Homo sapiens: one gene and its partner. The protein of the gene in region 1 interacts with the protein of each later gene in a pairwise test. Each region holds a gene or a part of one and is shown on either strand. Other genes may lie near its edges.

Region 1 (3,820 bases):
TGTAGGAGGGTCTCAGATACTCCAAATAACAAAATTACTAAAGTCTTTTTGTGGGTTTTTATTAACATTTTCATCTTATTTTTCATGTGCATGGTTTCTGTCTGATAGGTGCTAAATGAAAATTATGGCTGAGATGAGAAAACACTACTAAGAAAAAGGGATTGAATGGTTTTATTTGTTTAGGCGATTTTGCCAGAATACCTTCAAGCCAAGGAAGGAATCGCCAGTTTGCATATTGCTATTTTTGCTGTGGTCTCCCCAAGTTGTCTTCTGATCCCCGACGGGTTCTTTCTCTGGTATAAAACAGCTGAATGAATGACAAAAATATTGGCAAGCTCTGCGGCTTGTTTTTCATGCCTAGCCTATTGGTACCTCCGAATGAGTTTGTGAGTTTTTCTAAGTAAACCTAAAGGGTTTTGTCAGACCTAGAATCTCTTGTGAACAGTTCACTAAAGCTTTGGTGAAGACTCACATGTAGAAAGATGTAGCTGTTTTATTGCCGGCTTTTGTTCAGCAGAAACAAGCAAATAGAGAATCTTTGAAGGGCCTCTCTGGTGTCAGTAGGAAATCCTGATTTTTAGCTACGGTTGGTGTGCACTAAGTCATCTTCAGAAGTTGGTAGGATTCTGTGAGTCCAGAGGACAGAGCTTATAGAGGCATTAGTATTGTAGGACTAATTGTGGATCCTGGGTGCCCTGTTAAAGTAACCCTTGTCATCATTTATGCTAAAGATGATACCCTTCTGGCAGTTTGCCACAGTACAATTCAGATGCATCTGCTTTTAACCCTTTTCCGTTATCATTGGAAGTCTGACAGTGCGCTGCATAAACACCTTGAGTACCACAGCATTCCGTAATATCAATTTCTAGAAGAAGCCTCTTTCTAATAGTAGTGTGGCCGGTGCTTATTAATCATCTAGCTACTGAGTTACTGTATTGGATTAAAATATATAAAGAGAGAGCACACCAAATCTATGCAGATTCCTTTATCCTAGTATGTCAGTTTCCTTTTCTATCTCTCATTTTTACCTTATTTACTGTAACAAAGATTGTTGATTTTAAAGACTTATGGGTACCGTGCTCTCTTTTTAGTTAGGTAGGTTAAATGAGTATTCATAAAAGCAAATGTTATTTTTCTACATTATGCAGATATTGAAATTGTGTATTATGAGCACCAGTTTGGTTAAGTACTTTTTGTGGAACCAGTTAGAGCTAATATCTAAAAAAGGAAGAAAATGATTTGTGGAACCAGTTAGAGTTAATATCTAAAAAAGGAAGAAAATGAAAATTTCGTGGTCGAAGATAATTTGTTTGGACACAAACCCAGGAAAAGTTTATTATTAACAAAATCATGTAAGCAGTAGAAAGGTGGGTTCTTCTGAAGATAAATGGTGAGTTATGTTTGCATACTGTATACTACTCATAGCAAATTAGAGAAGATACATTTATTTCTCTTTCGTCACCATTATTATTTGATCAGAAAGGTAATTCTGCATTCATTGCTTTTGGAAAATGCACTGTTAATTTAGAGCACAGCTTACCTTAGGACCAAGTTCATATTCTACTTAAATATTTCTGTTACGACTTTAAATAATATGAGAATGTATATATTTGTGTGCATTTGCCTGTACTGTACCCAGTCTGCCTTGGAAGCACAGTGAATCTCTTGTGATTATTTATTTTCATGGCTAATATTTCCTCCCGCCACCCCCAAGCTGTATTTCTGAAGATTGTTGGTTTTCCATCTCTTCTTCTTCATCTTTTTGATAGGAACCATGCTGCCAGTTTTCTGTGTGGTGGAACATTATGAAAACGCCATTGAATATGATTGCAAGGAGGAGCATGCAGAATTTGTGCTGGTGAGAAAGGATATGCTTTTCAACCAGCTGATCGAAATGGCATTGCTGTCTCTAGGTTATTCACATAGCTCTGCTGCCCAGGCCAAAGGTAAATAATGTGTACGTGGGGTTGGAAAAATTGCTTAGCATTCTTTGTTTACCTTGCAGAGAAAGCACTGAATATTTTTATTCAAAGAACTGTAGCCTGTGTATTACATTGGTTCCTTATAGGCTGTGGCTTTAAAAAATTGGCTTAATTCAGTTTGGTTTAGTTAACACACATTTTGCTCATGTGGAATGTCGAGGTAGATTTTTTTTTTAAATTACTTCAGCTGAATCATTAGTATGCTTATTGACCTTAATAATCTGCTCCACTGAGGACCCACAAGGAAGTGAGGAGCGTATTTGAGCAGATGGACTGTTGAGAGTCAATTTGCATTTATGACTGAATATCTAGTTCTGTTTCTTTTATTCTGTTTCTGATGGTTTTATGGGCTGCAAAGTATTTTTCAATGCTGATTCCCACTGCAATAGAGAATCTTATCTAAATCATAAAGCCATTTAGAACTGGTTCGGCTATGTCTTATTAGAACTTCCTGTAAGTTAGGAAAATGTGGCCTTATGCATAGGTTTTATTGATGGGGTTTTATTTCCAAAATAATAAACAACCCTACAGTCATTTACATAATTTTACAATTTGGAAAGCTAAGCTGTGAATATTTTCATTGACCTGCCTTTTAGAGGGAAGGGAATCATTCAAACAGAAATAACGGTACTGCTTGTGGTAGGGGTAGTAGAAAAGAAAAGAACACCCTTCTAGTAGATATATTATCTGAGGGTAAAATATTTAGTGACATATTCTCTTTATCTGAAATAGGGCTAATCCAGGTTGGAAAGTGGAATCCAGTTCCACTGTCTTACGTGACAGATGCCCCTGATGCTACAGTAGCAGATATGCTTCAAGATGTGTATCATGTGGTCACATTGAAAATTCAGTTACACAGGTGAGTCAAGACAGCAAATCTAGGGTGAAACATTCTTCTTACCTGGTCTTTTGAAATGAAGCATTTCTCTCTGGTCGACCTTCAATTTTTTTTTAGTCTGTGTTTCAGAAAGGTTAATACAGATCGATTTTGTTACCCTATCCTTCTGCCTTTTTTCCTAACTTCAATGTATAATTTAAAAGCAATCCCCCCCCCCACACACACAAAAAATGTGTAGGTTTGTGCAGGTTATCAAAAGACAAGACTTTTTACGTTTAGTCAATTAAATAATGCATCACAAGAAGGCATTTTACATAAAGTTTACTTAAGAAAAAAATATTTTTGCATATCATGAACAGTGCCATCTGTGTACATTTTGTGAAAGACTGTCTTATTCACTATTACCACAGTCTTATTTATTTATTTATTTTTTTATGATTTTTAATTCATATGAACAGAGTAATGAAAGGAAATCGGTTAATACATTAAAGCTTTTCATGATGGCTCAGGAGAAAGCAGTACACCTTAAATTGTCTTCCCAAGCGCATCAGAGCAGGAAGGTAGAAGTAACATGAAAAAATAGCCACCACAGGCAGCTGATGTATAATTCATGCATCGATACAGCAGATGTGTTGTATAAAGTAATTAACTAATCGGAACAATCAGGAGACCGAGAGCAATCTCCAGATGCATCTGTTTGATGCGCAAAATGAAATCTGTCTGTCTTAAAGGAATGTTCTGCAGCGGGATGCAATCTTGTAATAATCCCCTTTCTAATCTATGTCTCAAATAGTTGCCCCAAACTAGAAGACTTGCCTCCCGAACAATGGTCGCACACCACAGTGAGGAATGCTCTGAAGGACTTACTGAAAGATATGAATCAGAGTTCATTGGCCAAGGAGTGCCCCCTTTCACAGGTACTTAGCATAGAATGTAATAAATAATAAGACATCATGGGCAACCCTGATTTGAGGTTTGATGGAGCTCCCTGGTTTAAAGC
Region 2 (3,392 bases), on another chromosome or scaffold:
GCTGACCGTGCTCCCGACCATCACCTGTGGGCACACCATCGAGATCCTCCGGGAGAAGGGCTTCGACCAGGCGCCCGTGGTGGATGAGGCGGGGTCAGTCTCAGCCCCTGCTCAGAGCTCAGTCCTGGGTTCTGTCTGCCCAGCTCCACCCCGTCAGTGTCACTGGACAGGGCAGCCATGCAGACCCTGCAGCTGGGCTGATAGGCCCGCCTGGGCCGCCTCATACAGACGTTCAGGGCATTGGAGGCCCCTTGCCGGTCCCTGAGCAGCCTGGGGCAGGGCTGCCGTGCTCACTCCAGGCCCTCAGACCTCAGCCCACCCACCCTTTGTGTGCAGGCTGTCCTGGGCCCACCTGGAGGTCAGGGGAGAGATGCCCCGAGGACATGTCTGACAGCAGAAAGCCTTGGCACACATGCCCAGTGACCACTGAGAGCCCCACGTCGCGGAAACCTGACGGCTGGTCACCCTTGACCCTGGCTGAACGGGTCCAAGGACTCTTGGTTTCTTTCTCCCCACCAGGGCCCAGACTGGTTCCTGCCGCGTGTAGGCTCGTGGCAGAGGACTTCCATGTGTGGCCAGAGAGCGCTCCTCCCTGGGGCAGCTGAGCGTGTGCCCCACCGTCCTGGGAGGGGTGAGGTATGAGCGCTGACCCCTGCCTGCCCCCGTCCCACAGGGTAATCCTGGGAATGGTGACGCTTGGGAACATGCTCTCGTCCCTGCTTGCCGGGAAGGTGCAGCCGTCAGACCAAGTTGGCAAAGTCATCTACAAGCAGTTCAAACAGGTACCCAGTCACCTACAGGCAGCTCAAACAGATGCGCAGTCACCTACAGGCAGCTCAAACAGGTGCCCGGTCACCTACACGCAGCTCAAACAGGTGCGCGGTCACCTACAGGCAGCTCAAACAGGTGAGCGGTCACCTACAGGCAGCTCAAACAGGTACCCGGTCACCTACAGGCAGCTCAAACAGGTGCGCGGTCAGCTACAGGCAGCTCAAGCGGGTGCGCGGTCACCTACAGGCAGCTCAAACGGGTGCCCAGTCACCTACAGGCAGCTCAAACGGGTGCCCGGTCACCTACAGGCAGCTCAAACGGGTGCCCGGTCACCTACAGGCAGCTCAAACGGGTGCGCGGTCACCTACAGGCAGCTCAAACGGGTGCCCAGTCACCTACAGGCAGCTCAAACAGGTGCGCGGTCACCTACAGGCAGCTCAAACAGGTGCCCGGTCAGCTACAGGCAGCTCAAACAGGTGCGCGGTCACCTACACGCAGTTCAAACAGGTGCGCAGTCACCTACACGCGGCTCAAACAGGTACTCAGGCACTTCGGGACCCCAGAGGGTGCCAGAGTACTCCAGCCTCGAAGGCGGGACACCGCGCTTCCCGTGTGGGGGTGCTGGGTCCTCGACCCTCAACACCACTTAGGCCGAAGCTGGCTGCACCCCTCAAACCATGAAGCTGAGAAGCACCCACTTTACAAGTGCAGCAGCCGGAGAGCAGGCTCTCATCAGTGCAGGCTCATCCACACCAGCCGTGTTTTGGGGACTTAAGGAGGTCATTCGCGCTCAGAGGCTGTCCCGGGCACCATGCGGCGTCTGCCGGGGTCTTTCTCCTGCCCAGCCTCATTTGCCTGTGCATGCACTTGGTTATCCAACAAGAGCTAGAACATTCTGGGAGAAGCCCACGGTGGCTCCTTGCCGGGCTGGTCAGACTCCGTGGTTGTCCTGAGACACCCACCCTCTGCTGCCCTGAGGGTGGCCCAGGAAAGTTTGTGTGACCTTCCACACGGATCCCCTGGGACATGCAGGTGTGGCTCTTGACACTGGAAAGGCTGAGGGTTCTGCCCAAACCTAGGAGTGAATTCGACTTCTTTCCCATCTCACACACACACCCGAGACGTCACCCGAATCCACGTATTTCCCACGTTCGGCTGCCACTGCCTCCCGGGTGGGCTTTGCAGGACCCACCATCGCATCCCCTCTCACTCCACAGAAAACTCGTGGGGCCATGTTCCCCCTGCCACTGACCACGCTTCCCTTGCAGATCCGCCTCACGGACACGCTGGGCAGGCTCTCGCACATCCTGGAGATGGACCACTTCGCCCTGGTGGTGCACGAGCAGATCCAGTGTGAGTGGGGCCCTGCTCTGTGCGTGGGGTTCTCACTGGGGTCAGGCCACCAAGCCTGGCCTCTGCCATGGGCAGCAGCTGGGCCCCCCATCCCCTGCGGGGTGTTAGGGGAGTGGGTGGTGCCGACCTTCAGTGACACCCAGTCTTTATGCCTGGGCCTCCCACATGCCCTGGGCTGGTGGGCTGTACCTGTGATTCCTGCAGGGACCCCTCATCAGGCCACACTGGGTAGGGCCCTTTGTCCAGCATGCAGAGGCTCAGGAGTCCAGGCCCCTTGCCTCCGGGGAGGCCAGCAGTCTTGGGGATTCTCAGGGACAAGCCCAGAAACATCTAGAAGGGTTTCAAGTCCTGACCCTGGCATTCGGAGGGCTGCTCTGAATGGAAGCCTCATGTGGGTCTCACAGGAGCCACTGATGGGCTGTCCTCAGAGCCCCGCTCCCAGCAAGCTCATGAGGTTTTGCAACTCCTGAGCGCATCCCCGGGCGTCCCCACCACATCCCCACAGGCCAGGAGAGTCGCTCGCAGGTTTTGGGTCATAGATGGCAGCCCTGGGCCTGGGGCCCACAGGAAGAGTTGGGAGGGGCCCTGGAGCCTGGAGCCTGCCCACCCACCAGGCCTGTGTGCAGGGGGTGAGCGCTCGGTGGCTGAGGCTGGTCCGTGAGGGCCCCAAGTCTAACCCCATCTCCCGTCCTTGGCTCTGCAGCGCAGGACCAGGCCTGGGCAGGCGTGGTGGGGGGGCCTGCAGGTAGGTATCACCCACCCCTCAGAATGGCTCTCAGGCTCAGATTCACAGCCTCCCCATGGCAAATGGAGGCCTTCCAGGGTCCTGGACCCACCCCCAAGCTTGGGTAGGAGGGATCCCCCTCTTAATCTCACATTTACTTGTGTTTGAACATCTCAGAAAAAAAAAAAGATGCAAATTCCAATGTCAGGGTCCCCAAATCAAGTCTTCCTGGAGCATGTCCACGCTTGTCACCACCGTCTGTGGCTGCTTTCAAGCACGTCAGGGCTGCGTGCTCATAACAGAGACGGCACGGCCCCCAAGACCTAAAATACCACCAGCTGGCCCTTGTCGGAAAGTCCCCTGGCTGGCCCTAGTCCATTGACTCTGGGCCGAGCTGCCAGGGCCACAGAAGCCTGCGGCACTCAGGGCTCCCAGGGCTCCCTTCTCCAACAGTTGCTGTGCCTCCGTTTCCCCAAAATGCAAGGAGCTGATCTCATCTGTGTTCCCTATCTTTTCCTGGGGCTCTAAGTGGGCCACCCCAAGG

The links.
Region 2: the proteins of SATB1 (region 1) and CBS interact in a two-hybrid assay, tested with the Homo sapiens proteins (one large-scale study listed by BioGRID).

Annotation. Positions count from the first base shown.
Region 1 is NC_000003.12:18,415,028-18,418,847, reverse strand, and holds part of SATB1 (DNA-binding protein SATB1), read left to right. Parts: intron 1-1,769; coding exon 1,770-1,946; intron 1,947-2,714; coding exon 2,715-2,841; intron 2,842-3,613; coding exon 3,614-3,737; intron 3,738-3,820. UniProt on the Homo sapiens protein: Crucial silencing factor contributing to the initiation of X inactivation mediated by Xist RNA that occurs during embryogenesis and in lymphoma.
Region 2 is NC_000021.9:43,055,535-43,058,926, reverse strand, and holds part of CBS (cystathionine beta-synthase), read left to right. Parts: coding exon 1-93; intron 94-519; exon of another isoform or gene 520-636; intron 637-673; coding exon 674-782; intron 783-2,039; coding exon 2,040-2,124; intron 2,125-2,827; coding exon of another isoform or gene 2,828-2,869; intron 2,870-3,392. UniProt on the Homo sapiens protein: Hydro-lyase catalyzing the first step of the transsulfuration pathway, where the hydroxyl group of L-serine is displaced by L-homocysteine in a beta-replacement reaction to form L-cystathionine, the precursor of L-cysteine.